Regions from separate parts of the Homo sapiens genome. Here all the other regions are reported to be linked to region 1. Evidence: microRNA targets listed by miRTarBase, many of them from high-throughput screens and not tested one by one. Region 1 holds a microRNA gene; each other region holds the end of a gene's coding sequence.

Region 1 (11,123 bases):
TTAAGCAGGGGAGCCTTATGCTTATGGAAGCAGAACAGATGTGGGAAAGTAAGAAAGCAAGACGACAGAATGTGTGGGTCTTTTGGAATTTTCTTCTGCTCTGTGTTAATACTTATTATTGATAGCAATAAAAGGTTTCCATTAAGGCAGACACTGTGCTGAGTTTTTTTACGTACCTTATTTTATTTTTAATATTTGCTTTCTTACAATAAGCCTATGAGTCTGTATGGGAACCACCCACTTTACAGATAAGGAAAATAGATCTGTAAGAGTTGACGCTCCTTGTGGCAATTAACACTTATGAAGTGATGATTGTGTGTCAGGCTCCAGTGCTCAGGGTTTGATGTGGCTCGCATCATTGACTAGTGTCCCCAGTCTTAGGAGGCAGCTCCCCTGGAGGAATAGAGGGTTAGAGAGGCTGGAGAGCATGCCTAGTCCCAGGAAACTACTAAGGTGTGGAGCCAGATAAAAATGCAGATCCAGGTGAGGTTTCAGGACACAGGAACAATGCACTACTCAGTCTTTGGGCCCAGTGGTGCCTTTGGAACTGATGTCCTCAGGAACACAGGGATGAGTTTTTGGTTTATGGATATACTTGTCCTTTAGGGGAGCAGTTTCCTCTGGGTGCATGTGTTGGCAGTAGCTGGAAAGGAGAGACTTGAGGGCAGAAGGTAGTCTCTGGGTCCTCTGTCCTTGATAGATGGAAATATTCTGTGCATGTTACTATCCTTTCATAATACAGTCTATTTTCCTACGCTTACAGGTTTCCAGCCCAGCCCAGGCCTCAGATGCAGATCCACCTTCTCTCAAAACCTCACTACCTCCTCTCACCACCTTCTCTCAAACCCTGCTCCTCCAACTACTTCCATTGCCCAGCCAATGGCACTGCCACACATTTGGTTGCTCAAATTTAAAAACTCCATTATATCCAACTCTTTTCTCTTGCTTACAAGCCACACCCCCACCCTGCCCTCACCAATGCCATTAAATCTTTGTCTCTTTAGGGTATGTTCCCAGCAGTGGGATTGCTGGGTCATATGGCAGCTGTATTTTTAGTCTTCTGAGGGACTTCCAGACTGTTCTTCATAGTGGTTGTACCAATTTACATTCCCACCGCAGTGTACAAGGGTTCCCTTTTCTCCACATCCTCACCAGTGTTTGTGATTGCCTGTCTTTGGATAAAAGCCATTTTAACTGGGGTTAGATGATATCTCATTGTAGTTTTGATTTGCGTTTCTCTCATTTTGTGTCCAAAACTTATCTGGCCTCCATTCTTTCCATCCCTCCCTACCCATATCATCTTATATCTAAACTGAAGCAGAAGCCATCCACCTGTTCCCCTGCCTCAAGCTCACCCTGCTGTCACCTATCCTGCATGTTGTCCCTGGGAGGATCCTTCATGGAGCAGAGCAGACCAGGATGTTGCTCTTTTGTCAGGTCCAAGGCCCTTGGAATCAAGCTCATGTACTTTCTGGCTTCTGCTGATCTTCTAACATTATTTCCTAAGAAAACCACAAACCTGCACCCTAAGCTCTATTCTAGTAAACATTTTACTGCTCCCTGACAAGACCATCATAGTTTATGTCTCAGTGACTTTGCACAGATTATTTCCTCCTCCACAGAAGGCCATTTTGTCACCTTGTCAGCCTGGTATACACCTACTCTTCAAGTCTCAGCTCAAACAACATCTCCCTGTAAACACTTCCCTGAAACCTCCAAGAACAGATTCTCACTGATTCCTTGGTGTTCTAGCCCTTGGTGCTATAAGGTGTGATAAGAGCTGTTAGAGCTCTTATCACATAGAATCATCACTGTTTACAGGCAATTGCCACTGCTCTCATGTGATTTCAATGACTTGCTACGGATATTCCTGACTCTATGGTCTTTCTGCATCATCGACCCATAATCCAGCATCTCTACCTGGTTTCAGAACCTCCAATGGTTCCTTACACCCCACTGAGGCAAGCAGAAACTCAGTCACATGGCATGTGCATGGTCCTTTGTTAGCCATTTTCCAGCCTCATCCTTACCATCTCGTGTGCGTATATATTTATAACTTGATGACAGCTGCCATATTGAACGACTTTTACTTCCTTTAAAACACCATGTTCTTTTGTCCCTTCAAGGCTTTTTATGTGCCATTTTCCTTTACTGAAATGCCCTTATCCTAGACTTCTTCTCCTCTTTTGAGAAACCCAGTACAGTGTGTGTGTGTGTGTGTGTGTGTGTGTGTGTGTGTGTGTGTGTGTGTGTATGTGTATATATACATATATATAAAACCTAGTTCTAATTACTTTCTCCTTTTTTGCCTCCCATTGCTTTCAGGTAGGATTAACTGTCCTCTCTTCTGAGTACTCTCTTCACTTTATTTATATTATTAAATTAAGCCTTATCACTGGGCCATATTTTCATGTTTCTACCACCTATCACAAACCTGACCCACAGCAGGTGGGTTATAAAATGTTTTTGCTGCACTGATGGATATATCCAATCCAATTCAACAAACACTTACAAGCATCTGTTACAGGAAAAATCCTTCACTAGGCACTTTGGAAAAATAAATTAGGCATTCCCCACCCCTAAGAAGCTTACAGTCTGGTTAATAGCGTAAAAAGTTGATGCATTAGGAGACCTTGGTATTTAAAAGGAACAGTTTCATGCTGTCGAGAAACTAATTCATTACCATGGATTTTTCTGAAACAAGACTTTATTAAAGCAGGACACACCCTGCTTTGATTAGGCCTGGATTAGCTGGGCCTAGGTTGGGTATCCACTGTCTAAAATTTGTAATAAGTATCAAGGGAGATTGGGAGACCCTAATCCACATTCTCGCCTCACAGAACCTGGCCATTCAATATTAGAATACCCAGAGCCACAATGATCTCTTGAGAAAAATGATGGAAAAACTTTTATTATACTGATAGTAGTTAAGCCTATAGAAACTGGAATTTATAATCAAAAGGGCTTCTTCAAATCTCTGGGAAGAACACCTGTTATGAAGGGAATTCAAGTGGAGGTACGAGAGAATAAAAATGTATATGTCTTTCAGGAGACACTGGTTGACTATTGGTTGAGGAAATTGTTATGGAATGTATTACAAGGAGATGCCACTCAAATATCCTCTACTGTATCTTACAGGGACGCTGCCTAAAATTCTTTAAGATGGGGCACTGTATAAATATGGGGCTGCATGATGGAGAGTTCTAACAGCAACAATAGGGATTTCATAGTGCTTTAGCAATCTCCAAAAAGGCACATTTTAATATAATTTAATCCTGATAAAGCTCTATGTTCTACGCACAAGGTATTGTTAACTCATTTGACATGTGAGTAAACTGAAGGTCAGAGAACTTGTTGTTCTTATCCAGTACCACACAGCAAATAACTGGTAAAGCTGACCGGCGCTTGTGCTCCGAACTCCGCTGGTGTGGTGGTGATACAAGTGAAGTCAGAGGCAGTGGGAGCTGTGGCCGGAATAGCCACAGTTGAAGCCACTGATCATGACAGTGAAGTGGCACACAGTGGCTGCGTGGAAGGACAGCTCTGTCCACGTGGAGGAGAATGGATTAGCCACCTTAACCCTGCCAGGGGAAAGGAAGGAACTGGGAGGCTCGGGGTCCTGTGATTCTACCAGGCAGGGGCTTAAAGGTCAAAGACAATTACACAGATTTTCAGGCCATAGATCATTCCTCAACTACACTGCCCCCAATCCTTGCCTAGCTCAAACCCAAGGCCAATGTGGTAGAGGAAGCAGGGGTACATATAGTATCCATCTTTTCACATACAACACACTTTATTAACTTTGTTTGTCTGAACAGCAAAATATGACTCCTGAGTCTTCCAGAAGAAATTGAGAGTCATCTGACCAAGAAATAGCCTTTCAAACAATTTGGAAACTTGTTTGAGAGTGCCATTATCTGGGAGAGATGATTCTCTGAAATTTTCCACTCTAGGCTCTTCTTTCTTCCTTAGGAGGAAACACCAGTTGTGGTCCAAAAATTCTTCTTGCAGAAACTGGTTTTGTTCCATAGAGCCCACAACCCAACCCAACACCTCTTCGCCTTCCCCCGCCTCCCTCACTCCCAGATCCTTTACCACCTTCTGCCACCTCTATCATTCCTACCTCTACTACGCCTCCTGCTCCTTGAAGGATCCGTGTAAAAGGTCAGCTGGGGGTCGTTTTCTGCCTCTGTGCCAGAATCCCCTTCAGGGTTCAAGAAGGCGGAACCAGCTGTAATGAAAGCAGCATGGTCAAGAAAGCGTTTTCAGTTCTGGTTTCATGACACCAAACCTTTGGGCAAGTTCAATGGGAAAATCAACAAAAATGAAAGTAAGCTGACTGATAATCTGGGAGAAATAGCCAAGGGGGTTGGGGCTTCCTCATACACGGATATGTTGGAGAAGTAGACCATTGGGACAGCAATCACTGGAGCTCTACCCTGCCCCACCCACTTCCCTCTGACTAGGGCCATTTCTGGCACCTATCTGCCAGAGAGGACCTCCAGGGAAAGTGGGTGGAATAGGAAGAAAGGGAAATTTCCCTCATTACAGGTTATGATTCTGTTAATATGAGACTATCTAAGAGGTATAGGAAATTACATCTTTGTGTTTTTTCTGGCTCTAGAATTATATATATTTAATACAAAAAAGACAGAATAGAATAAAGGAAATGCACAAAACTATGTAAAGGGAACAATTCTAATGCCCTCTAAATCCTTTAAATCAGAGATAAACTCTGCTAACATTTCATGTGTATACTCTCTGGCTTTTACTGACACAGAAACAGGTAAAGGTTTTTTAATCTCTCTTTAAAAATGACATTATGCTGTATCTTCTATTTTATAACTTCATTTTTTTTCCCATTTAATAGATGGGTGGGCAACTTTCCATATTAACAAATATAGATCTATATTGTTTCAAATGGCTGCATGGTAAGTGCTGGACAGCAGACAGATGTGCTAGGTAGTTAACCAATTCCCTGTTGATGGACATTTAAGCTATTTCCAATTTTTCACTTGTTTAAACAATGCTGTGATGAACGGCCTTTTACACACTTCTTTGCACACTTGTCCAATTATTTCCTAAGAATAGACTCTTGTTGGTGAAATTACTTGGTCAAAAGGTTTGCACATTTACATTTTTTTGGTAAGTAGCATTTAACTGGCCTCCAGAAAGGCTGTGCCAGGGCATACCCTCTCCAGCCACGCATGAGAGAATGGGTAGAAGATATTAATGGCCCTGCCTCTACCAATATGAAGGAATCCACCCACGAGCCCTAATGTCAGACATGCATACCTCTTGCTTTGTTGTTGATCCGCTTTCTCTGGCTGCTGGAGGTGTGAGAGAGAAGGGTGGCTTGCTGGTGGTTGGAGTCCACAGGGCTAGTGGCTATAATATTATCTTTATACTTGTTCATCAGTGACAGCTTGGCATTGTCACTTCCTGTATAAGGAAAAGACGAGGCAAAAACTTTAAGAGAAAAGACCAAAAGAAAGGGAGAAGAAGGAAATCTGCATAAACCAAGAAGATAAGGTCTCACAGAATTGAAATAAGACACCAGCAAACTGAGAGACTGGCTGCAAGAAACTGAAATACTCCTTTTTTATTTCTGAGGGACTGCAAAGTTATGGGAGAAGCAGTGAAGTCAGGGAACTACAACTGAAAATCCAATTCAACTATTATTATATTATGTATTATAATATTCTGTATTGATAAGGTCAGCACTTGTAACCCTTTGGCTAAATACAGACTGCAGATTTCTTTATTTTTGGTCAGCACAGAGTTTTAAAAGAATTTGAATTTGTGTGCATTCAGGCAGAACATGCCCCTTCTCTTTCATCACAGTCTGCGCCATTCTGTATTGTCTGACCTCTTCTCTGCTTCAAATATCTGTGTTATCTGTTGGCCTCCTAAAGGCATTTGAGTTGATAATAACCCCTGAGTACCATATGTCTACTTTGTGGGCTTAGCACTACACCAGGTGTTATGGTCAATATGAAGAGATGTTGATGATATGTCCCCCATATTCTCAAGGAATTTTCAGGCTTTAAATCTCATTAGAAATTGGCTCTTCATGTAGAATGTCTTGTAGAGAACAAGCAGAATAAAAACCTCTATGTGATTCCACTTTTTCAAGCCCCACTGAAAGTCTATATATAGTAAGCAACATTCAGCATCAAACATGTCTTCCTCAAAGATAATTGGGCAGTTCTTTGAAGGATCACTGTCAAGGGTTTATCTATGGAGATTTGCTGATTCATAGAAGTTTTAAAGAGAAATAGGCAGATTACTGTAAAGGAAGAGTGCAGTCTTTCTCTCTCTGCAGTTTTTGACCCTAATCTTGTTCATCTGGATTAGTTCTTCCAGTCAGTGTCTCCATAGATACACAATGCATCTGGGGTCTGATACCATGATTGCAATCCTTCATTTTCTTTGAAGAAGTGCATCCCTTGTAGAGAGCACAGAGGCATGAGCAAGATAAACATAAAGAAAACACCCCAGGCCCAATTCTCAGGAGTCATAGGAAAAAGCAGATACCACTGTCCCCTCCGCTTCAATGGAGAATTAAATTGCCTAAGCAAGTATAAAATATACAAGAAGTCATATACACATGTTCATTTTTCTTGCTATCTCATTTCCCAGAGGGTTGCTCATTACATACTAAAATGGCTCTAACTCACTCCTCTGTTGAACGTTAAAGTATGTTGCTTCCAGTGCCTGGTGGAAGTGAAAGAAGATCCAATTTACACGGTTCTTCTGGTTTTCTAGATTAGAAAACAGCTCCCATCATCTCAGGAAACAGGTTATTCTTGCCTATCTAGGGAAGGGCACTGCCACATCACACTATGTAGGACAACCAGCTGTTGTCACACAGCTGTTCCTACCCACTCCCCAGCTCCTTGAGATGAAGGACCAAACAGCCCCTTGCCTTTCTCCCATCCCCACCTGGTGTGAGGTCCATCCCCGACTTTTCATTGCAGCCCTGCAGGGAGTCGAGGGTGCGCGTGACCTGGCTGGCAAAGTCCTCCCCTCCGTTCATGCACTCCCTCTGCAGATGGTGGCGCAGATCAGTGATGTCATACTCATAGCCGTCCAGGATAGGTGTCTCCCGGATGCTCAGGGTGCCACTGGAGTTGTGGCCCTGCACGCGGGCATTGCGCAGGCTCTCCCGTCCGTGCCCGCCGATCAGCACAGAAGGAATGTAGTGAATCTCATTGGCTGCCTCAGCACTGGCACTCTTCTGGGGCTGCGGGACCCGGCGGCGTTTGCACCAGCGCCGGCGAGTATACAGGATCATCACCAGGCACAAGATGGACAGCAGCAGAGCGATCATGCCACCCTAGGAAGAGAGGACCACAGATGGATGTGGGAAGATGGGTAGGCTCTTCCCACAAAGAGTCACTGCTCCTTCTGCTACCACCATTCATCACTTATTTATGCATTCATTCATTCAGCTGTATTAAGCATTTACAGCAAGCATCATTCAGCAGCAAAGGGAAATTCTACTGTGACTGGTATTTAGGGTGAGAGAAAAATGGAGCTGGGATGACCAGTGCATCATTTCAAGTGATCCAGTTGCTTCGGGCTTAGCAAACAATTTGAAGAAACAAGTCTGTGTGTGTGTGTGTGTGTGTGTGTGTGTGTGTGCGTGATTTCAGCTGCAAAAACAGGGGAGAGCTTTTATGTATTAAGTTAAATCTGCCACACATAACGCTGGTTTCAGGACTTTATTTTTTTTAGCAATATGGGGTGACATCTGGTTTCTTCCTGTCTCACGTCTAAACATCAATCATAGATTCTAACAGTGGTTCCACCAATTATCAGTGGGTCCTATAAATTCTAAACCTCGGATACGTCATCTGTATAATGGAGAAGACACCACTTAACCACCCAGGGTGGTTGTAAGAATTAGGTTAGCTAACTATGTAAAGTGCCTAGCATAATATATCTCACACAATCAAAGCTGTTCTCAGCATAACCTTAAATGTCTCCATCTGAATAACTGGCCCAGCAGGAAAAACCATTGACAAATCTGAATAGAAATTTACATCCATCAGGAATTTACCACCAAGTGTGGGGAGGAATCTCATCATCTGAACATGACTTTTGGGTCACAGCTTTCCCTTAACCACACAGTCCTGAGTGATGTTCCGTCTTCTTACTAAAGCTCAGGGGAAGGGATTGAAACCCAAGTCCTGGAGTCAGGCTGGTGGAGGAGTTACCTTCTGGTGCTCAAAGGCCAACACCTCGAAGGTCATTCCTTACAAATCAGGACACCACTCTGTCGACTGCCAGAGGTGAGGATGCAGAACTCAGTGAGACTGAACACATGGCCTTGACATCACCGGGGCAGCATTTAGAGGGACAGCCTTTAAGCTTGGTGCTGCATGGCACTCGGTGGGCATAAATCTTCCCGTGCACAATCTCTATTCACTCCCTTTATTTTGGTCAATATCTTTCCAAACCTATTTCATTAGGCCAGCATGTGCCAAATGGTTCTTCTCTCAACCTTAGGCTTCAATCATACCTCCCTATCAAATAAGCTAGAGATAAAAATCCGCTACTAATTCCCAGAGGGCCCACCCACATAAAGCTAGGTCAAGAGTATGCCTCCAAATACATTAAAGGGGGCTTTTCCAGTCTCATAATAATTATACCTTGGATTTATAAAATTTCTTTCCCTGAAAATCTTCCTATTTATCCTCCCCCTCTCACCATCGCTGTGAGCAAAGGAACACACACACACACACACACACACACACACACACACACACTGCCACTTTCAAGCAGGCAGCACAGAGGAGCAGAGACACGAGGCAACAGAGTCAGCTGCCAAGTGACAGCCTATATCATGTGGCTTGTTGGGGACAGATGTATGCTGACCTCCTGGTTTTCAATTATTTCTTTTTTTGCAGAACCCTTTCTCCTGGTGCAAGCTCTTATGCAAGTATAGAGAAAGAATAAACATGCTCAGGTTCCATTATGGGTATGAGTCCAAAGCCAAGTATTCTAGGTCCTTGCTAACTGCCACCTCCACTCCCATCCATCCTGGCAGCCCTGCAGACACACACACAGAGCTCCTGGGACCCCCCAGAACACTGCCTAGAAGACACAGTGCCTCCACAGTGCATGACTAAGCCCTGTACCACTCATTGACAGCGAGTATTTGTGTCCAACCTGACATTTTTTTTTAGCAGAACCTGTATCTCAGAGTCAGTGCTATCTTTTCCTTCACCCCAAATTGAAACTGCAACAATAGGTAATTAAGCCACACAGAAGGAATAACTTCCCAACTGAGAGAAGTTGTCAGACATTGAATTAAGCTAGTGAAAACGAGAGGTAATTTTATTCCCTAAGGAGCTGTAAGAGTAGCGTAAGCATCAATCTCTAAGGAATGGCTTAAACACTATGTTTTTTGCTCATGTAGGGTTTTTTAGGAGCTCCTTCCACTGTTCCTCTCTAATTCTCCTTTCAGATGATCACAACAGGGTTATGATGAGGTCTGAGGCATAGACTCATTCCCTATATTATGCAGTAATAAAACAAGATTAGCTGTCCATTATCATGCTTTTACCATGTACCAGATACTTGTTCAAAAGGTTCCTCACTTTTAACTCAATTCCCCATTTTACATTTGAAAAAGATGAGGCGCAGAGGTTAAATAACTTGCCCAACGTCACACAGCAAATGAGGAGTGGGACTGGAATGAGACCACAACTCTTATTTCACAGCCTATATTCTTAAGCACTAGCCTGCAGTCACCCAGAATGAGCATTGCTCACTGGAGAGACATCTACACCCTGGCATCTATCTTGCACAACATAAGAGGACAGAATAGGAGAGTATGGATGAATACATCCAGACCCATTGTCAGTTCTGGAAGAAAAAAAGAGTAACTATTCAAATACTCAAATTTCAAATATTCAAAATGCACATCTAGCTGACAGTGGGTCAAAGGAGGAGCTATCATAAACAAACGACCTTTAGTAAGCACCTACTAAGCATCCAAATCCAAGATTAGTTGGTAGTAAAAAGACGATACTCACATTTCAAGTTATCTGTGTTTAAACAGGACTATTTGTGTCACTACATGCCTGAGAGATACCATTAGGCCTTCAACTGAGCTGAATTTAGATGAGAAATGTGTACTTTCTTTCAACTTAGGGACCCATTGCATATCTATCTCTAGGTTCAGCCCCTTCCTTTTCTGATGAAAAAACCAAGGCTCAGAGAAACTACAGAACTAGACAGTGCAGAACTGGCTCTAGTCCCAGATCTTCCTTCACTGCTCTTCTCACAGGCCATTTTGGTAAGTTCATCCAAAATTCTCTTAACCATGTGTGGAGCCTAGACACTCAATTAAGAATATTTTATGTTCATTTTTCTTAAAAACATAACTTATAGGGAGCTAGAACAGAAGATTTGTTTTGCTAAGCCAGTATATTTAGCTTCTCTAATTTTGCTTTAGTAAAAAACGCTTCCTCTGCTTAGAGTCAGTGACTCTGGATGGGATGACCTCAGCTTTCTTTTTTTTTTTTTTTTTTTTTTTTTTGAGATGGAGTTTTGCTCTTGTTGCCCAGACTGGAGTGGAGTGCAATGGCACGATCTTGGCTCACTGCAACCTCCACCTCCCAGGTTCAAGCAATTCTCCTGCCTCAGCCTCCTGAGTAGCTGGGATTACAGGCATGCACCACCACGCCCGGCTAATTTTGTATTTTTAGTAGAGACGGGGTTTCTCCATGTTGAGGCTGGTCTCAAACTCCTGACCTCAGGTGATCCACCCGCCTCAGCCTCCCAAAGTGCTGGGATTACAGGTGTGAGCCACCGTGCCCGGCCGACCTCAGCTTTCTAATAATCAGTTACCAGGAATAAGCTTCAGCCAATAGGTAAAACTCAGCACAAGCATTTGAAAAAGGATTCTCAGGTACTCAAGTTGTGGTATGGGTTCTCTGCTTCTGTAACTCAAATTGGTGACAGATGTCAAAATACTTTGCAATGGCTTACTAATTGTGGACTATTACATAAATAATAATATACTGTAATGTGATGTGACATTAATATGTGACATTATTTAATAATATTTTGTAATAATTATTTGTAAAATCACTACACATAAATTTCTC
Region 2 (11,123 bases), not on the chromosome of region 1:
TCCAACATACCCCCCAGGCCCTGGGGCAAATACTGCCTCATACTCAGGGGCTTATTATGCACCTGGTTATACTCAGACCAGTTACTCCACAGAAGTTCCAAGTACTTACCGTTCATCTGGCAACAGCCCAACTCCAGTCTCTCGTTGGATCTATCCCCAGCAGGACTGTCAGACTGAAGCACCCCCTCTTAGGGGGCAGGTTCCAGGATATCCGCCTTCACAGGTGAGTTGTTTTCTATTGGGAAAAAAATGAATTCAAAGTCTCTGCCTCTTGTAAACAGTGGAAGAGCATCTGTTCATACTAGTGCTGATTTAATAAGACACTTCTAGATTGGGAAGGCTTTTATATTGATGCCTTTCTTATTTGTGGCAGCTATTGCAGTAAATGGACTTTGGCTGAAGGTCATAATCATAAATTTTTATACTGAAAGTAATCTTTAGAGAGTTGCTGCTTGAAAGTTTCCCTATCTTAGCCTTTTTTTTTTTTTTGTGGCGTGATCTTGGCTCACTGCAACCTCTACCTCCTGGGTTCAAGCAATTCTTCTGCCTCAGCCTCCCAAGTAGCTGGGATTACAAGCACGCGCCATCACGCCCAGCTCATTTTTGTATTTTTAGTAGAGATGGGGTTTCACCATGTTGGCCAGGATGGTCTTGATCTCCTGACCTCGTGATCTGCCCCCCTCGGCCTCCCAAAGTGCTGGGATTACAGGCATGAGCCACCGTGCCAGGCAAATCTTAGCCTTTTTTAGCACCCTGTTAGGTTCTTTTTTTTTTTTTTTTTTTTGAGACGGAGTCTCGCTCTGTCGCCCAGGCTGGAGTGCAGTGGCACGGTCTAGGCTCACTGCAAGCTCCACCTCCTGGGTTCATGCCATTCTCCGGCCTCAGCCTCCCGAGTAGCTGGGACTACAAGCGCCCGCCACCGCGCCCAGCTAATTTTTTTTGTATTTTTAGTAGAGATGGGGTTTCACCTTGTTAGCCAGGATGGTCTCGATCTCCTGACCTCGTGATCCGCCCATCTCAGCCTCCCAAAGTGCTGGGATTACAGGCGTGAGCCACCGCGCCTGGCCAGGTTCATGTTTTTTTAATATTCTGTGAATAACTATGTTTATTTCTCTGTTCACTTCAAGAGGAGTTCTAACATGTCTTTATTTGTGCTTCCTTATAGCATATGGGTCCGTTTGTTTATAGTATCTATGGGACAGACTTGGGTTTCATCCATTGAATTTTTAGGCCTTATTCCTTCTGAGTTTTATTGTCATTAAATCTACCCCTGGTATCTTTGGAACCAACTTTTTGAGGCTTGGAGAAATTACTGCAGCTGATTAATTAGATTTACTACAGTTTAGTCCGGTAGCAGCTAATGTATACTCTGTTAAGAAGAGAGGAAGCATCTCAGAATCTGCCTGTAGCAGAATATTTTTATTATAAGTTTTTCACAATGACTGGTATATTTCTTCTTCTCAATCTAGAACCCTGGAATGACCCTGCCCCATTATCCTTATGGAGATGGTAATCGTAGTGTTCCACAATCAGGACCGACTGTACGACCACAAGAAGATGCGTGGGCTTCTCCTGGTGCTTATGGAATGGGTGGCCGTTATCCCTGGCCTTCATCAGCGCCCTCAGCACCACCCGGCAATCTCTACATGACTGAAAGTACTTCACCATGGCCTAGCAGTGGCTCTCCCCAGTCACCCCCTTCACCCCCAGTCCAGCAGCCCAAGGTAGGAGACCTAAATGTTGTTCCTTTAATGTGTGTGTAATTAGGAGAACATAACATGGTTTATATAGTTTCTGTACTGGTTTGTGTTAAATGGGGACTAATTACAAAAAGTTGGTGACTACTTATCTATAGCTTTACCTCAGCTCGGTTTCCTTTTTCTTTTTTTTAATAGACTTTATATTTAGAGAAGATTTAGATTCACATCGTTTTTGTTAAAAGACAGAAAGATACACATTTTCTGTTTGTTGTAATTCTTCTAAACGTTAAATGCAAAGATGCATTTTACTACTTCAAATAATCTATGAACAGAAGACAAAACCAATGTGAAATATCTGTAGCATGAGCTTGTATTTAAACCACAGACTTGAACATTATCACTTGTGGCTGTGTTCCTTTTCAAGACCTTGCTTGAGGTTTTTAACCTTTTAGGGGAAAAACTAATTCTTATTAATTAGGTCACAGGATGGACTATGAGGTGCTCATGGTGATGGACCTGCCACAGGGCAGGTTCCAGCCATTATAACTCAAAAATTCTGTGCCTTTTGTCTGACAGGGCACTCCCTTTTATCTTCTTAGGACTGTGTTTTTTTGCAAATGATTAAGGAGAGGGGTCCAATTTTATTGTTAGGGAATCTTTTCATGTACCTTTCTGGTCAAGTGAAAGATGTGGGCTAACAAATTTGATGTTGATGCATTCCCATTAAAACAGCTCTTTTCCTCTTTTTGCTCTCCCACTCCAAGGATTCTTCATACCCCTATAGCCAATCAGATCAAAGCATGAACCGGCACAACTTTCCTTGCAGTGTCCATCAGTACGAATCCTCGGGGACAGTGAACAATGATGATTCAGATCTTTTGGATTCCCAAGTCCAGTATAGTGCTGAGCCTCAGCTGTATGGTAATGCCACCAGTGACCATCCCAACAATCAAGATCAAAGTAGCAGTCTTCCTGAAGAATGTGTACCTTCAGATGAAAGTACTCCTCCGAGTATTAAAAAAATCATACATGTGCTGGAGAAGGTCCAGTATCTTGAACAAGAAGTAGAAGAATTTGTAGGAAAAAAGACAGACAAAGCATACTGGCTTCTGGAAGAAATGCTAACCAAGGAACTTTTGGAACTGGATTCAGTTGAAACTGGGGGCCAGGACTCTGTACGGCAGGCCAGAAAAGAGGCTGTTTGTAAGATTCAGGCCATACTGGAAAAATTAGAAAAAAAAGGATTATGAAAGGATTTAGAACAAAGTGGAAGCCTGTTACTAACTTGACCAAAGAACACTTGATTTGGTTAATTACCCTCTTTTTGAAATGCCTGTTGATGACAAGAAGCAATACATTCCAGCTTTCCTTTGATTTTATACTTGAAAAACTGGCAAAGGAATGGAAGAATATTTTAGTCATGAGTTGTTTTCAGTTTTCAGACGAATGAATGTAATAGGAAACTATGGAGTTACCAATATTGCCAAGTAGACTCACTCCTTAAAAAATTTATGGATATCTACAAGCTGCTTCTTACCAGCAGGAGGGAAACACACTTCACACAACAGGCTTATCAGAAACCTACCAGATGAAACTGGATATAATCTGAGACAAACAGGATGTGTTTTTTTAAACATCTGGATATCTTGTCACATTTTTGTACATTGTGACTGCTTTCAACATATACTTCATGTGTAATTATAGCTTAGACTTTAGCCTTCTTGGACTTCTGTTTTGTTTTGTTATTTGCAGTTTACAAATATAGTATTATTCTCTACTTCTTGGTACATTTTGTAGTAATATGTTTAATATAATTATTCAAGAGACTATATTGACAGCCAGATAGTATGGCAGTTCTGAAAAAATTTATATCTTTTCACCACTTGAATATACTGCAATGTGTAGTGAGTAAATTGTCTCCCTTTTTCTATAGATCATTAGGTTAGAGTTTTTTTCTTCTTTTTTTTTTTTTTTTTTTTTTACCACTTCTGCTGTTCATGGTAGTAGTGGAAGGTAAATTTGGAAATGGCATTGACATAAAATGAAAATGTTTACGGACACTTTTCTTTTTTGCTTTTTTATTGTATTTGGATAAAGATCCACTTAAAAGTTATCTGTTTTTTCCTGTTTTTTTTTTTTTTCCCCAAAGTGTAGTTATGTTTTCACTATTGCTGCTTCTATAGAGGGCATTGTGATAGAGAGTTACAGATGAAACATTAAATGCCACAGTGAGTAGAAATAATTACTACAAAAAGTAATAAATATGATTACTTGGTAATATCATTCTCCATCTAAAATACTAGTTTCACCTGTGAGCAGATTTCAGCTCAGTTTATAGTTAAAAACAATGAGGGTAAAATGGGATTCATGCTCAGGGAATGAATCAGCCATAGTTAGAGTGGGAAATTATTATTTTCTTCATTTAAAGGTAGATTTTATGTTTATTTCCCTAAATTGCATAAGATAAAATTGTCTGTTTAATAAAAAGACATTTATTACCATTATTAACAGTCATTTTAGAGCCAAATTTAAGAAAAGGATATTGAAAGGGTCTTTATTGGCCTTGTTTGGGTAACTCTATGCTGTTAGATAGAAGAGACTTAGGTAAATAACTTTTTATGTCTGAGGTGAGTACACAATATTGGTTCTTGGAAAAATAGCTGTTTCTTCATAAGATACCCAAGTGATAATTTTTTTTCCCCTAGACTGTCAGGCCTATGAGTAAATACTAAATCTATTAGCTGTCCCCACTCATAAACCAAACCAAACCAATACAAACAGATGAGGAGAGGAAATGTAGTAAAAATACTGGCTGGGTCTTATGATTGGGATGAGTGATTTTATAAGATAATATGGTGATAATTTTATTCTAGGATTTTATTTTTGGCCTAATATAGGAATGTTTAAAAAAGGCTTTTCTATGAAAATTAGAAATTTATACTTGAAATTAAAAGTCTAGAAGGGGGAGGACCTTAAAGCTAAGCTACCAGTAAGACAATGAATAATTCAGAAGAGAACACTATTCTTTTACTGACTGAGTGCCCAAGATGCCAATTTCCATGAAGTCTTGATTTATATATATGTACACATGTTATGCACATACATGTTTGTTTTCTAACAGTTATTTTTTAAGCTTTTGAGATAATTTTAGACTTACAGAAGAGTTGTAAAAGTAGTAGAGTTCTTGTATACTCTGCACCCACCTTGCCCTTATGTTAACATCTTACGTAACAATAGAACATTTGTCAAAATTAAGAAATTAACCTTGATATAATACTAACTAAAGTAGAAAGTTTAAAAAGTAGAGATTTTAGTCTTTTCACTAATGTCCTTTTACTGTTCCAAGACCCAGCCTTGCATTTAGCTATCATGCCTACGTCCTGTCTTCCAGTCTGTGACAGTGTATCATAACAGGGGATACCTGATGTTGTAATGTATTTCTGGTGTTGTTAACCTTGATCACTATGCTAAGGTGGTGTCTGCTAGGATTCGCTACTGTAAACTTACTGTGTTTTCCTTGTAATTATTGAATATTTGCTGGAGATACCCGGAGACTATGCAAATGTCCCGTTTCTGCTTAAACTTTTGCTCATTTTACTATCCATTGGCAGATCTTGCTTGTGGCAGTTACTACTGTGGTGTTCTAATGGTGATTTTCTATTTCTCTCAATCCTTCTACATTTATTATTGGAATTCTTCTGTAAGGAAGAGTTGTCAGTTCTGGATTTATATTTTTAACTATAATAAGATATTCAGGATAAGTATAGATTTAGAACTTAAAGATGTTAAATCATGTTAAAATTATTCCAAATACCAATATCAAAGAAAACTAAGTTGGTAATCTATCTCAGAAAATATATGAACTTAAGAAGGAAAATAGTATTTATGATTTGTAGAATTGGTTCAACTTTTGACTTAATACTGACTTTGGACTGAATTCAAAGTTTTCTTGAAATTTCACATCTGGACTTTTTAAAGTGTCTACATTTATATTACTTTGGGGATCATTTTGTCAAAGTCTTGAATAAAGTTACCCAGTCCTGGCATGATAAACACAACTATGTTTTTTTTTTTTTATAATAACCCTCTGTTGTTCCAAGTATGAATGCCAATGAAACTGTTTAAACAAATAAGCCCTAATGAAGTATACAGGGGTTGGATTATATGTGTCTCCACATGTTGGTGCAGAATTCTTTTAAATGCTTTTAAAAATGGGGTTCTGAAAACAGTTTTTCAGTTGGTTAATGTAAATAATACCATTAAAGCTAGGCAGGTTAAAAAAATTTTGAAGAATGTAGATTAAATAGGCATAAAAAAGTTTTTGGGGGATGGATAGTTGATGGAGCTTTTCTTTTACAACTTTACTTTTTTTTACTTATTTTTTTAAAAAAGTAAGGAGTTTACCTCAATTCGTAGAAGTTACGAGTTTAAAAAGTCAGTTCTATGAAAGGCAGCATTCTCCTGATCCCACCCCCATTTCTCCTTCTCTAAAGGCAACCACTTTCAACTGAGTTTTTCTTTTGTTAATCAAAAAATTTTGTTTTTAGAGACAAGAGTCTTGCTATGCTGGTCTTAAATTCCTGGGCTCAAGTGATCCTTCTGCCTCAGCCTCCTGGGTAGCTGCGACTACAGGCATGGACCACCTCAACCAGCTTCAACTGAGTTTTTATGTTTTTTTTGAGACGGAGTCTTGCTCTGTCGCCCAGGTGGGAGTGCAATGGCGCGATCTCGGCTCACTGCAACCTCCACTTCCCAGGTTCAAGCCATTCTCCTGCCTCAGCCTCCTGAGTAGCTGGGATTGCAGACATGTACCACCACGTCCAGCTAATTTTTGTATTTTTAGTAGAGGCGGGGTTTCACCATGTTGGCCAGGCTGGTCTCGAACTCCTGACCTCAGGTGATCTGCCCACCTTGGCCTCCCAAAGTGCTGGAATTACAGGTGTGAGCCACTGTGCCTGGCCAGGTTTCCAGGTTTCTCTCTCTCTCTCTTTCTCTCTCTCTCTCTCTCTCTCTCTCTCTCTCTCTCTCTATATATATATATATATGTTTTCTTTACTTTTTTTTTTTTTGAGACAGAGTCTTGCTCTGTCACCCAGGATGGAGTGCAGTGGCATGATCTCGGCTCACTACTGCCTGAAATTCCTGGGCCCAAGGGATCCTCCCGCCTCAGCCTCCCCAGTAGCTGGGAGGCATGCATTATGGCACCTGGCTAATTTTGTAATTTTTTGTAGAGATGGAGTCTTGCCATGTTACCCAAGCTAGTCTCAAATGCCTGGCTGGGCTCAAGTGATCCTCCCTCCTTGGCTTCCCAAGTGCTGGGATTACAGATGTGAGCTACCACACCTGTCCTCAATATACTTATTTGGTAGTTTCATTGTACGTTATCCTGACTATGTAAATGCTAAGGAGAGTTTAGCTATATAGTAACCTGATTACTTTTCCTTTCCTAACAACTTGTTTTCCCTGGAATTAATCATCTGTCATATTTGTTTTGTTTGCTTATCTACCTAAGACTGATTTGACCTTCTCTCAGTCGTCTAAGTCTCTCAAGATGCTCAGACAAGGCCCGGCATGGTGGCTAATGCCTGTATGCCCAGCACTTTGGAAGGCCAAGGCGGGAGGATTGCTTGAGCCCAGGAGTTCAAGACCAGCCTGGGCAACATAGTGAGACCTCGTCTCTATTTAAAAAAAAAATTAAAAAATTAAGATAAATACAAAATGATTAAAAATTATTAATATTGGCTGGGCGCGGTGGCTCACACCTGTCATCCTACTGCTTTGAGAGGCTGAGGTGGGTAGACAACTTGAGGTCAGGAGATCCTCCTGGCCAATATGGCAAAACCCCATCTCTACTAAAAATACAAAAATTAGCTGGGTGTGGTGGCGCATGCCTGTAATTCCAGCCACTTGGGAGACTGAGGCAGGAGAATCACTTGAACTCAGGAGGTGGAGGTTGCAGTGAGCTGAGATCGTGCCACTGCACTCCAGCCTGGGCAACAGTGAGATTCCGTCTCAAAAAAAAAAAAATAAATAAATATATATATATAAAACATATAAATATATATTAGAAATATATATTTAAAATATTAAATATACATTAAATATGTAATATATATTTAATATATAATATATATTTAAAATATATATAATATAAATATATATAATATATATATATAAATATTTTATCAATTTCAAACTTCTGAAGAGTCTATCCTGAACCCTTCTGACTGGAAAACTAGTATGTTCCTGGCATAGTACATAGGGTCATGCTGTGGATTCTTTTTGTCTCTTCTTTTGGTTTTCTGTTTTTTGTATCCTATGTCTTTCTCTTTTTGTTTATTCCGTCATTTGGTGGAGCATATTCTCCAGGTGCTTCCTGGAAAAGGGTGCATGGGAAATAATTTATTTTGATCTTGCATATTTGAAAATGTCTGTTCCACCTAGCCAATGGATTGATAGTTTGGCTGGGTATAGAATTCTAGGAAATGATTATCTTAAGGATTTTGAAGGCATTGTTATATTGTCTTGTAGATTCCAGAATTGCTGTTGAGAAGCATATGCCATTCTGATTCAAGATCCTTTGTATAAAACCTGATATTTTTCTCTAGAAGCTTATAGAATTTTTGGGGGGGCCCCATTTGTTCTGAAATTTCCTAAGAATAGCTTTGGTTTAGGTCCATTTTTATCCGTTTTGCTGGGGCCATTTCATTCTGGCAACTCATACCATTAAGTCCTGTGAAATTTTTTGATTTTTTGTTTGTTTGTTAATTTCCCTCTTTCCTCCATCCCAGTCTTCTCTGTTAATACTTTCTAGAATTACTACTGTTTTGACTGTAGGCCTCATAGACTGGTTCTTTAATTTTCTTATGTTTTCTGTTTGTTTGTTTTTTTTTTAATGTTTTGCCTTTTTGTGGTACTTTGTAGGAGATTTATACAACTTTATCACTTTTTATTTTTATTTTCTGTGTGACAGGGTCTCATTCTGTCATCCAGGCTGGAGTTCAGGGGCACAATCTCTGCTCACTGCAACCTCTGCCTTCCTGGTTCAGTTGATCATCCTGCCTCAGCCTCCTGAGTAGCTGGGTTACAGGTGCACACCGTCACAACTGGCTAATTTTTTTTGTATTTTTTTGTAGAGACAGGGTTTTGCTAAGTTGCCCAGGCTGGTTTTGAAATCCTGAGCTCAAGCGATACACCCACTTTGCCTTCCCAAAGTGCTAAGATTACAGGCATGAGCTACCATGCCTGGCGAACTTTTTCTTCTGACTTCTAAAACATTGTGTCTTACATTTCTTCCATCTTTTTTTTTGGTTTTTTTTTTAGAAAGACTGTCACTCGGTCACCCAGGCTGGAGTGCAGTGGTGTGATCTCAGCTCACTGCAACCTCCAACTCCCAGGTTCAAGCAATTCTCCTGCCTTGGACTCCCGAGTAGCTGGGACTATGGGGACCCACCACTACGCTGGCTAATTTTTTGTATTTTTAGTAGAGATGTGGTTTCACCCTGTTTGCTAGGCTGATCTTGAACTCCTGACCTCAAGTGATCCACCCACCTCCACCTCCCAAAGTACTGGGATTATAGGCATAAGCCACCATGCCCAGCCTCTTCTATCATTAAAAAAAAAAAAAAAAATTGGCTGGGCGTGATGGCTCACGCCTGTAATCCCAGCACTTTGGGAGGCCGAGGCGGGAGGATCACAAGGTCAGGAGATCGAGACCATCCTGGCTAACATGGTGAAACCCCATCTCTACTAAAAATACAAAAAATTAGCCAGGTGTGCTGGCAGACACCTGTAGTCCCAGCTACTGGGGAGGCTGAGGCAGGAGAATGATGTGAACCCGGGAGGCGGGCTTGCAGTTGAGCTGAAATCGCACCACTGCACTCCAGCCTGGGCGACAGAGCGAGACTCCATCTCAAAACAAACAACCAAAAAAACAAACTTTTGGCCAGTTGCAGTGGCTCACTCCTGTAATCCCAGCACTTTGGGAGGCCGAGGCGGGTGGATTATGAGGTCAGGGGTTCGAGACCAGCCTGGCCAACATGGTGAAACCCCGTCTCTACTAAAAATATAAAAATTAGCTGGGTATGGTAGCACATGCCTGTAATCCCAGCTACTCAGGCTGAGGCATGAGAATCACTTGAACCCAGGAGGCGGAGGTTGCAGTGAGCTGAGATCGCGCCACTGCACTCCAGCCTGGCGACACAGTGAGAGTCCGTCTCAAAACACACACACACACACACACACCATTTTTTTAGAGACAGGATCTGACTATATTGCCCAGGCTGGTCCTGGTCCTGAATTCCTGACCTCAAGTGATCCTCCTGCCTCAGTCTCCAAAAGTGTTAGGATTACAGACATGAACCACTGCGCCTGGCCCTATCATATTTTTAACTTCCAAGGATATTTTTGTTTGCTGGGTTCCTTTATGAGATTCTGCTTTTGTTTACAGTTGGAGCATCTTGTATCTCTGAGGATATTAATGATGATTTCTTGGTGTTTTCTTCTTTCGAATAATGGATTTCCTCAAAATTGCTTTTTTCTTTTAGTCTTTGTCATTATCACATTATCACGTTAGAGGTATTTCTCAGATATCCGTTTTTTTTGTTTTTTTTTTTTTTTTTTTTTTTGAGATGGAGTTTCACTCTTGTTGCCCAGGCTGGAGTGCAATGGCATGATCTCTGCTCACTGCAACCTCCGCCTTCCGGGTTCAAGAGATTCTCCTGTCTCAGCCTCCTCAGTAGCTGGGATTACAGGCATGTGCCACCACACCCGGCTAATTTTGTATTTTTAGTAGAGACGGGGTTTCTCCATGTTGGTCAGCTGGTCTCAAACTCCTGACCTCAGGTGATCCCCCCTCCTCGGCCTCCCAAAGTGCTGGGATTACAGGCATGAGCCACCACGCCTGTTCTTGCTTGTGTGTTCGTGTGTGTGTGTGTGTGTGTGTATTTATTTTATTTTGGAGACAGGGTTTTATACCATAGCCTAGGCTAGAGTGCAATGGTGTGATCCTAGCTTGCTGCAGCCTCAACCTCCCAGGCTCAATTGATTGTACCCTAGCCTGCCCAGTACCTGGGACTACAGCCATGCGTCACCACACTCAGCTAATTTTTGTATTTTTTATAGAGATGAGGTTTTGCCATGTGGCCCAGGCTGGTCTTGAACTCCTGGGCTTAAGTGATCTACCCATCTCAGCCTCCCAAAATGCTGGGATTCCAGGCATAAGCCACCATGCCTGGCCTTGTATTCTTTGAAGTATGGTTTTGTTACTCTAGAGACCCAAAATTATTTTTATTATTATTTTTTTGAGACGCAGTCCTGCTGTGTCACCCGGGCTGGAATGTAGTAGTGAAATTTTGGCTCACTGCAACCTCTGCCTCCTGGGTTCAAGCGATTCTTGTGCCTCAGCCTCCCTTGTAGCTGGGA
Region 3 (11,123 bases), not on the chromosome of region 1:
ATCCTTCTACGAAATGCTTAGACATGAATTCTGAGGCTTACTTTTCACAAATTAAAAGATTTTTTCATGGAAACACAAAAGATACAAAAAGTAGAAAGATCCATATGAAGCACCTTCCTCCACAGTTTCTAAGCTTCTAAAATCAATGTTTCCCAGTTCATTAACAAGCTCGTACATAATTATTAGAGTAACACCATTAAGGTTAGCACATACAATGACTCCCAAAGAAAAAACATTGTCTATTTATAAGCATTGCTGTGAATGGGTGGAACGTCTCAGCAATACAGTCACAAGCAGCAGTCCCGGTGTTCTCACTCAGATATTCCACGTAGCACTTCATAGTATGCTTTAAGTGAGGGAATGTGACCTATAGATACATCTACACGAGAAGGATTCCCATAAGGCATAAACTGTTCAATAAACAATCATAAAAATATATTCATTCTTCCCTATCTAGAAATCTATGTCTTTATTTAAAAATACGTGATGATTCATGCTTAAGGACGTGTTGTTGGACAGTTGGTTACAGTCTTTTATCTAGTCAAAAGATTCTTATCTGCCAGAAATGTGATAAGTCCACTTATAACTAGTCTCTCAAAACATCCTAGATATTTTTCTCTGTATGCATAGTTAATCATACAAATTAATCTAACCTAATGCCATCTTGTTACCCTAAAATGTTTAATGATAATGGCTTATCATCTTTCATCCCCATAAATTTTCTCCTTGCTTTCAGTGAGCAGCAACTTCACTCCCATATACGCACTTGTTGTGTATTCCTTCTCCTGCCAAATTCACACAGTCACCTCCTCTTCCAGGATAAGACGTTTACTGCTGATAATCACAGCCACAGGGGAAACAAAGAACTGCCATGCTCAAATGAGGGTAAGGTGAGGCAGGTCCATTAATTTACAAAGGGACTGATTACAAACATGCAAGTGGGGTGCAGGGAAACCACAGGTGATGCTACATGAACGCAGGGCTGAAGACAGTAGAGCTGTTACTACCCCTAGGCCAAAGGGACAGAGAGATAGTGGGCACCAAAACCAAAGGAGGGGAATCTACAGGCAGGTGCTGGCCCAGCAACAGTTTTTTAGATGAACTAGGTACGGAAATTGAGAATAAGCATTTATAAACTTCAACAGTAATCCCAAAGAATAATTGTGTCTAATAAAAAATGAGGTTTATCTAATAATAAAAATGGGGTTGGATTTTCTATGTCTTTTTTTTTTTTTCCAAGATGGAGTCTTGCTCTGTTACCCATGCTAGAGTGCAGTGGCATTATCTCGGCTCACTGCAACCTCTGCCTCCCGGGTTCAATTCTCCTGCCTCAGCCTCCTGAATAACTGGGATTACAGGTGTCCGCCACCACCCCCAGCTAATTTATTTATTTATTTTTAATTGTATTTCATTTTTCTAGTAATTTCTTTGAATTCTATCTATTTACAGAAGTGCCAGCTATTGATAAATTGGAAATAAGGAAAACAAGCTGGGCCTTAGCCACAGATATTGTAAGAAGCTTTTCTGTAGAGAAGGCCTTCTTGGGCAAAACAGGCAGCCCAAGGATACCCAGTAGGAGGATAGTCAAGGAAATTGATACTCTATCCTTCCTCTCTTCACTTCCTCCAGTCTCTTGTCGAAGTTCTCCATTTGGCTATACCCACTGAGGTCCATGTGGGTCAGTCTCTGGAGGCAAAAAGCAGGATACAGAAGGGTGGAGAGTGGATCCCCATCCTGTACAGTTGAAAAGTCTATGTCCCCAACATTGCAAATGCACGAAGTCCCATCACCACAGAGTGATGTCATTTAGTCACGGAGTAATGTCTCCCTGTGCCACTTACCAACTTACTAACACTGAACTCCAAATTCACTCTAAATACATGCTCTGTCATAATGAACAGAATTCCTTTAGCACCCATCCTTTACAGTGAGCATGATATTGAGCTGTCTCAGTAGAGGGCGCTGGAGGGATACTGCAACAGGAAAGGGCTCTCCTGCTGTTTGCAGCTGCTGCAAGAGGTCAGCAGTGTGGGTGGGAGGGCTTTTGTCATGCTCTTCCCTGGCTGCATCCCTGAGCATGGGGTTCCTTTGCAACTTCTCAGCTGCAGCCTGGCCTAGCATTAAAAATAGAACCCATTACACAGGTTTGTTGTAAGTAAGTGTTTTTTGTTTTTTGTTTTTTTTTTTGAGACGGAGTCTTGCTTTGTCACCCAGGCTGGAGTGCAGTGGCGCGATCTCGGCTCACTGCAAGCTCCGCCTCCCTGATTAACACCATTCTCCTGCCTCAGCCTCCCGAGTAGCTGGGACTACAGGTGTGTGTAAGTACTAATTTTTAAAGGGCAGATATAATCAGTATATTAACATGCAGTTCTCACAGGGGTAACTAAAAACAACTTTTAATTTTATTCCTCACTGTCTGCTTGGGAGTGAAGGACTGGCTAGCCCTTCTCCTACCCCTGGATGAAACTTGGGGTGGCACAATGGCTGTTCTCACACAGGACTTTGGAGGGAATATAAAATCCTACAATTACTTCAAGACACAAACATAGTCTCAAGTCAGTTATTGAAAATGTCCAATCCAATGCATCAATCAGTAATTCAATTTGTATTCAAAGGTAAGACTTCTGGGAAGGAATCCTTCTCTTTTATTTCCTTACTCCCCACTGTTCACTAATTGGCTTTTGGCCCTTCCAGGGTTAAGTGCTCAGATGAAGGAAAGAAAAGGGGATAAAAAAGTTCATACTTGACAGATACTGTCAAAATGTTGCTTAATGCTGTCTGTCTGACAGATGCTTAAGACTAACCTTTCTTTTATAGACACTTTTGGGATTCTTCAGAGGGGTTCCTGCCAAGTGATGTATTCTAGTTCTCCAATTGCCCCACATGACTTAGTCCTTGGTTTTCCAGAAGTTCACTCAGTACTGACCTTCTTCTATTTTCAAGATAGTACCCCTCTTACACAAGATTTTAAATTGTTCCAAACCAGAACTTACACACCACTCGGCTCACACTAGACCATGGGAATATTCGTCTACCTTTTATCCCAACAAACTCTACGACTGAAGGTCAAGCTGGGGTAGCAACAACTCTCCTCACTTCACCTGCAAAAGCACTTGCCAGACCTCCTCTGAGCCTCTCTACAGACACCACCCGCAGTGTCTGTGAGGTCTGCTAATGGAGCTTGCCACAAAATACAGACTGAAACAAGTTTTATAAACTTCCTCAGCTTTTTGAGAGAGGGAAGAATTTCCCATTTGAATTCTTCCAAGGAGATTTCCCCCTGTACTCATAACTTTTCATCTTTATTTTTCTTTCCTATGACCCCTAAGCAAACATCCTGTTGGTGACCATAAGCTTGGCAATAAATTATCCACGTGTTGCCTCACTGGGGTTTTACTACCAGTTGGTCTATACTGTTGTGGGAATAACATGCACAGTCACTGCAGAAGGAATTAAGCCATTGTATAAACTTTAAAACATGCAAGCCCACCCATTAAAATTGTTCCTTGTTATTCTTACCGTATATATCCAAAGTAAATGAAGTTGAGATTTGATGTCATCAGTAGCCCATTTGATTATCTACAAGAATCAGATAACAAACTGGTATTATGGGGGAGAGATATAAATAGGAAATCAGTGATGTGCTCAAACTGTAAATCTAGCCCCGCCATGGCTTATTTCTATACCAGTTGCTTAGCATGGCCAACCCGAAAGTCAACGATTTTAATAGTCCCTGAATAGTATTATGATGATCTCTGGTTACTTAGTAGGGCCCTACCTAGCAGACTGTTTCTGCTTTACCACATTTGGATGTCAGATCCAACTTTTCTTGCACTGACTGGCTGTAATAACCCATATGGGGCAGGGGGAGAAATAAGTGGTTTTTTAAATTTACTTTTGCCAGTATGTGTTAATAGTACTTAGTTTCATAATTCTGGATGTGGCTCCAGTAATCAGAAGAGCTTTAAACAGAAAGATCAAAGTCCATAGAAAAGAGTTTTGTTTCCGTTTCCTTAGAATATAGATCATCCTGTGAAAAACATAGGATTTCTTCAAGGTAAATAAATAGTACTCACAGGAGGCTAAGGCAGAGAAACTATAATGACAAGTAGTTCAAGTGTGTAAAGAAAAATACTGGTTATTAGGAAAGACTGCTCAGATGGGCCAGTATAATTAAAATAGTTAAAGTGACAAGGGATTGATCTGAAACAAGTCATGAGAATCCCTACAAAAAGCAGTTCCCTAAACTGGCTGCATAAGAACCATCTGGAGTAATAAGCTTACGAATTAAACTGATACAAGCCTGTCTGTACCTGAGACAGCCGATATCCAGTCTGGGCTTCTTTTCAGTAAGAGAATTCTGATTTTATTGCTGGTAATGTATCCAGCTAAAAGCAATGTTTCTCAGCTTCTCCTGAAGATTGGTATGGCCATGTGACTAATTCTGGTCATTGAATACAAGTGGAGATTATTGGCTATTACTTCTGAAAAGGCTCTTTAAAGAGGGAGGAAGAGCTGAGTTTGAACTTTTTGCCTTTCTACCCATTCCTCCTTCTATGTAGAATTTAGACCTTAAGGCTGAATCTGTAGCAACCATCTTAGAGCATGAAGCAATCTTGAAGGTGGGAGTCACAAGTTAAAGATGGCAGAGCTAATGGATTAAAGGAGTCTGGGTTCCCAGCCACCATGGGACTGCCATGCCAACCCTGCACTGCTCCTTCCACACTTGTTTTATAAGAAGGAAAGTAAACCTAACATAGATAATCCTGTTACTATACACCATCAAATCCTAAACACAGTGCTACTGGCATTTTCTTAGCCTTACCAGATTGCAACAGATGATTTTCATTTTCAGGCAAGTATAACTACCTCCACAATGCTACCCAGCTGTCAGTGATTACAGCATACCATTTGGGGAAATGCATGTCTTAGAATTAATGAAACAGGTATTTAGAGTCTTCAGTTTATCCAGCTGCCTTAGCTTGCCTGAAATCTTACTAGTAAACTCACTGATTCTGGGACCATCCAGAAGCTGGAAATTCCCAATGTGGAAGAGAAATGGCCATGAGAGAATGCCTTGTGCATACCTGGCACAGAAAGGAAGCTAAGGAAAAGCAATCCAACACAGACATTGCCACCCACAGTTGTATGGAAGGCAAAGTATCAGTGAGAAAGAAGCTGTAGTAACATCAGTGTTGGAGAATCTTTATTTATTATAGGGTTAACCTCTTGTACCGTAATGGACCTTAAATGAGCACAGAAGTCTGGTCTCCAAAGTGAGACCTAAAGGAAGATGATGCCAACCAGAGCATGGAGGACAGACTGGAAGTTTTCCCCTGGCACAGGCCATCAGTAATCAGCTGTTGATATGCCTATGTTAATTGTCTGGTAAACTCGTGGTGCTGTTTTGGCTCTTCTCAACTAGTTCACTTTTTAAAAATTTAAGCACCTCATTAAAGAAACCCTTTTAGATGTGGTAAAGCGAAACAGTCTACTAGGTAGGGCCCTACTAAGTAACGAGAGATCATCATAATACTATTCAGAGACTATTAAAATCGTCGACTCTTGGGTTGGCCATGCTAAGCAACTGGTATAGAAATAAGCCATGGCGGGGTTAGATTTACAGTTTGAGCACATCACTGATTTCCTATTTATATCTCTCCCCCATAATACCAGATACATGGTAGTCACTCAACAGGACAAATATTAAATAACAAATGACACAATACATGGTTTCAAAAGGGTGTTTACTATTTGGCCAAACAATATTTTTTAATTGTCAGTCATAAAGTGAAATACATACTAAAATATATATTAAATATTCACCAAATCTGCATTGCTGCTACATGAAAACATTTTTTGGTCTGTTGGAAAATGTAATTCCTGAGATCATTGTTGGGCTTTGTCAATCATTTTCCTCACCATCAAATCACCTTAAGTGACTTGGGAGTGTGAATCTAGGATGTTCAATTTTAGACCAATTTTCTCTATCTTCTAAATGAGTAAACAGGCTCTGTCTTTTATAAAAGGTAGAAAAATAACCATGGTGTGCTAATTTTTTTCAAGGTATACCATATGGAAAAGTATAGGCTGAACACAAAGGAAGTCTTTTCTGAATGGCTCTCGATCACACATAAGGAACATATGTTTTCCAGTTAATCTGTCCTTGATGTACAGCAGTCCAGCTGTTGTTTTGCATTTATTAAAATATTCTCTGCTAAATAGTTATGTTTGTCTTTAAAAGTAAATTGCATAAAATTACATCCAATTTCTTTCTCTAAACCAACATATTCTTCACCTTCACAAAGCAAACACATGGTGCACTGAAACCGAGGTGTTACCAGCTTTACATACTGTTCTGCCATTTGTGAGGGGTGCAACCACAACATAAGTCAGAAAAAAAGCTATCCAGCTTTTCGTGGAATCTGGTGAAGTTTATACTTAGCGATAAGCCTCTAAGCCTGAACTTAGCAGGGCTAGCAAAACTTTATTTATTTCCTAACTCCTATTATTTTAGAATGGTTTTCAAAATAATACTGCAAGTTCCTAATTGAAATACAAAACAGAACAAAAAGCTGTGAGAAATCTTTTTTTTCTTTGGCTCCTTAAAGACTTGGAATAATTTATATTAGTGTTGCATACATTTTACCTTCTACATTTTGATGTACTTGCTCTTGAAAGCACTAGAACAAATTAATTGAAATAAAACCTCTCTGAAACCATTTGAATCTTTGATCCTACCATAGAGTTTTAAAGGCTTTCAGGATATAACTTGTATTTTCCCCTGAGTCTGAGTGTCTACATGATTATAGAATGCATGTCTCTTGCTTCATGGTGATATCTAATATGCATGGAATACTGAAAAATAGGTATTTCCCAAAGGCTCCTATATACCAGGCATCTCAGACTGACACTGAAAACCTTTTGAAGCATTTTTAACAACAAATAATGGACTATTTCACAGACTGATGCCAATAATTAGTTTTCTGGACCTACAGTTGAAAGCAAAATTATCTTTTTAACTAAATAGGATCAGCTTCAAAATCCTTTTTGGAGATGTTTTTATCTATTAAATGCCTTTATTAACAACACCATCTTCCATTTTCTATTACTCCAATTCGATTTCTCCTGCATACAAGGTAATGAGTAGAATGGCTGTGAATCCAGTTAACATTCCAGCATTCTGAATCATGAAGAAGGTGAAATCGGTTTTTCTTCCAGTTACCTTTTCTCTCAGCATATCATTCATCTCTGGAAACTAGAAGACAGATATATTGTTAGATAACTGTTGCCATCTTGTGGCAAACCACAAAACAGTCACTTAGAGGCATACCTTGGAGACAGTGTGGGTTTGGTTCCAGACCAGTGTGATAAAGCAAACATCTCAATAAAGCAAGTTACATGAATTCCCAGGTTTCCCAGTGCATATAATAGATATATTTGCATTATACTGTAGACTATTAAGTGTGCAATAGCATAATATCTAAAAAGGCAATGTATATACCATAATTTAAAAAAATACTTTATTGCTAAAAAATGCTACCAATCATTCGAGCTTTGGGTGAGTTGTAATCTTTTTGCTGGTGGAGTCTTGATTCCATCTTGATGGCTGCTGACTGATTAGAGTAGTGGTTGCTAAAGATGGGAGTGGCTGTGGAAATTTCTTAAAATAAGACAACAATGACATTTGCAACATCAATTTATTTCTTTCATGAAAGATTTCTCTGTAGTGTGCAATGCTGTTTGACAGCATTTTACCCACAGTAGAAATTATTTCCAAAGTGGAGGCAATCCTCTCAAACTCTGTCCCTGCTTTATGAACTATGTTTATAGAATATTCTAAATCCTTTGTTGTCATTTCAGCAATGTTCACCAGGAATAGATTCTGTCTCAAGAAATCACTGTTTGTTCCTCCGTAAGAAGCAACCCCTCATTCATTCTAGTTTAATCACGAGATTGCAGCAATTCAGTCCCATCTTCAGTCTCCACTTCTCATTCTAGTTATCTTGCCATTTCCACTACCTCTGCAGTTACTTCCTTCCCTGAAGTCTTGAACACCTCAAAGTCATCCATGAGGGTTGAAATCAGCTTCTTTCCAATTTCAATTAATGTGGATATTTTGACTCCTTCCATAAATCACAAATGTTCTTCATATCATCTAGAAGGATAAGTCCTTTCTAGAAAGTTTTCAACTTACTTTGCCCAGATGCATCAGAGGAATCACTATCTACAGCAACTAGAGACTTACAAATTATTCTTAAATGATATGATTTGTAAGTCAAAACTACTCCATGGACTGATCCATGGACTGCGGAATGTATGTTGTGTTAGCAAGCACAAAAACTTTCATCTCCTTGTACATCTCCATAAGAGCTCTTAGGTGATTTGATGCACTGTCAATGAGCAGTAATGTTTGAAAGGAATTTCTTTTATTTTTCTGAGCAGTGGGTCCTAACAGTGGGTTTAAAATACTCACTAAACCATGCTGTAAACAGATGTGTTATCATCCAGGCTGTGTTGTTCTATTTCTAGAGCACAGAGTGGATTCAACATAATTCCTAAGGGCCCTAGGATTTGGGGAATGGTAAATGATCACTGACCTCAACTTAAAGTTACCAGCTGCATTAGTCCCTAGTAAGACAGTCAGCCTATCCTTTGAAGATTTGAAACCAGGCATTGACTTCTCTCTAGTATGGAAAGTCCTGGATGGCATGTTCTTCTAACAGAAGGCTGTTTCAGCTACACTTAAAATCTATTAGTTTAGTGTAGTCACCTTCATCAGTGATCTTAGTTAGATCTTCTGGATAACTTTCTGCAGCTTCCCATCAGCACTTGCTGCTTCACCTGACACTTTTATGTCATACAGATGGCTTCTTTCCTTAAACCTAATGAATACACCTCTGCTAATGTCCAGTTTTTCTTCTGCAGCTTCTTTACTTCTGTAAGCCATCATAGAATTGAAGAGAGTTATTCCTTGCTCTGAAATAGGCTGTTGCTTAACGGAATGTTGTAGCTGGTTTGATCTTTCTATCCATACCACGTAAATTTTATTCATGTCAGCAATAAGGCTGTTTTGCTTTCTTATTATTTGTGTGTTCATTGGAGTAGCCCTTTTAATTTCCTTCATCAATCCTTTCTTTGCAGTCACAACTGGGCTATCTGGCAAACAAAGTCTAGCTTTTGGCCTGCCTTGGGTTTCAACATGCCCTCCTCACTAAGCCTAATCATTTCAGGCCTTTGATTTAATATGATAGATGTGCAGCTCTTCCTTTCACTTGAACACTTAGAGGCCACTGTAGGATTATTAATTGGTGTAATTTCAACATTGTTGGGTGTCAAGGAATAGGGAGGCCCAAGGAGAGGGAGATGGAAGGATGGCTGATCAGGGGTGCAGGGAGAAAACACACACAACATTTGTCAATTAAGTTCACCATTTTATACGAATGTGGTTCATGGCGTCCCAAAACATAATAGTAACATCATAGATCACTGATCACAAATCACTATAACAGATATTATAATAATAATGAAAAGGTTTGAAATCGTTTAAAAATTAACAAAATGTGACAGAGACAGGAAATAAGCCCATGCTATTCAAAAAATGGCACTGACAGATTTGCTTGAGGCAGGGTTGCCAAAAACTTTCAATGTGCAAAAAACCTAGCATTTACAAAGTGCATCAAAGCAATGTGCAATAAAACAAGGTGCTCCTGTAATAGAATGCTGGGAGGGGTGGTATGATCATTTACTTTGGATGTTTAAAGGTTTTAGTACTGATAGCTTAATAGGAATATCTAGTTCTTTCAGGCATCAACAAGAGTAAAAGTACTGAAGTAGTATTTTTCTCCAACTGAATCAATCAGTGGGATGGAATTTACCTCATTTTATGTTCTCTTTCTCCTTTTCCATTACCTGCTCTCTATGCTTCACCCAACCCATTCTTTCATGACCTCAAGTTTACCCAGCAAAATCTTCACATCTACCATCACCTGTACCAGAACTTGTATTTCTCTAATTTTTCAGTGGACTAAATCCTTCACGTTTTACCTTATATCTTGCTAAAACACTTTTGCTAGCTAATCCTAGTTTATTCTAGATTCCTTTATTATCATCTCTCATCATATATTCTACTTTCTCTCTTATTTCATAGCATTTTTTATTATTTGTAATTATTTAGTCATCTGTGTGATTTTTTGTTGTTTAATTTAAGGATCCCCTCTTTCTAGAGGAAAAGCCCCATGAATGGAAAAGCCCCTTGAACTGTGCCTATTTTGCTCACTCCAGGATGAGTATTATTTCTTAGTATTATTTCTTTAAACTGAACAACTCTAGTAAGATTCCATTCTTATATCAGAAAGTAAAATGACTATAAGATAGCATGAGACATTAATTTTGTGACAAAAGTTATAAATGTAGCATTGGTTCTAAGAGATGAAATCCTTGCTCTTCTGAGGGTCTGCAGAGAACAACGAACAGAGCTAGACAAATATAATTTGGAGGTAAGAATGCAAATAAAAAACTCAAATTATTAAATTATGTATGTAATACATCCAGTTCCAAATGCAAAAGAAATAGTCCTTGATTTTCATACACTACCATATTATCATTTTATAGAAAGATTTCCATGATTTATTTTAAAATGCACAGGATATTCTCTCTCTTACACACACACATGCACACTCTTTTTTTTTTAGATGGAGTCTCGTTCTGTCGTCAGGCTGGAGTACAGTGGCACAATCTCGGCTCACAGCAACCTCTGCCTCCCGGGTTCAAGCAATTCTCCTGCCTCAGACTCCCGAGTAGCTGGGATTACAGGCGCCCGCCACCACGCCCGGCTAATTTTTGTAGTTTCAGTAGAGACAGGGTTTCACCATGTTGGCCAGGATGGTCTAGATCTCTTGACCTTGTGATCCGCCCGCCTCGGCCTCCCAAAGTGCTGGGATTACAGGCATGAGCCACCGCACCCGGCCATGCACGCTCTTTTGAGCACAAACACACACATACACACAGATACAAAGACACAGACATTGAACAGATATAAATATATACTATGTCAAATAACTATTGTCAAAATTTTACCAATTTTAGTGTACCAGTTTTAGTTTAACCCAAAAAGCTGTCAC

The links. The annotated mature microRNA hsa-miR-488-3p reads UUGAAAGGCUAUUUCUUGGUC and lies in region 1 at 3,864-3,884, opposite strand. An mRNA with a match to its seed (bases 2 to 7 or 8) in the 3' UTR can be bound and repressed. Matches are read on the target gene's strand: a 7mer-m8 pairs with bases 2 to 8, a 7mer-A1 pairs with bases 2 to 7 and ends in A, and an 8mer does both.
Region 2: the mRNA of BAG4 is a reported target of hsa-miR-488-3p. Seed matches in the 3' UTR shown: 7mer-A1 at 3,374-3,380.
Region 3: the mRNA of SLC39A8 is a reported target of hsa-miR-488-3p. Seed matches in the 3' UTR shown: 7mer-A1 at 6,999-7,005 and 7mer-A1 at 6,675-6,681.

Annotation. Positions count from the first base shown.
Region 1 is chr1:177,025,511-177,036,633 of GRCh38, forward strand. MIR488 (microRNA 488) reads right to left here and starts at 3,935; the gene lies at 3,853-3,935. ASTN1 (astrotactin 1) reads right to left here. Exons shown (of 23, transcript NM_004319.3): 3 at 6,946-7,339; 4 at 5,296-5,442; 5 at 4,124-4,231.
Region 2 is chr8:38,207,544-38,218,666 of GRCh38, forward strand. It overlaps BAG4 (BAG cochaperone 4), which reads left to right. Exons shown (of 5, transcript NM_004874.4): 3 at 1-223; 4 at 1,470-1,724; 5 at 2,465-5,758. The coding sequence ends at 2,950. Among named protein-coding and RNA genes, the nearest start is that of DDHD2, 18 kb to the right of the region's middle. RefSeq lists a silencer at 3,168-3,462.
Region 3 is chr4:102,255,936-102,267,058 of GRCh38, forward strand. SLC39A8 (solute carrier family 39 member 8) reads right to left here. Exons shown (of 9, transcript NM_001135146.2): 9 at 5,731-7,258. The coding sequence ends at 7,109. Among named protein-coding and RNA genes, the nearest start is that of SLC39A8, 84 kb to the right of the region's middle.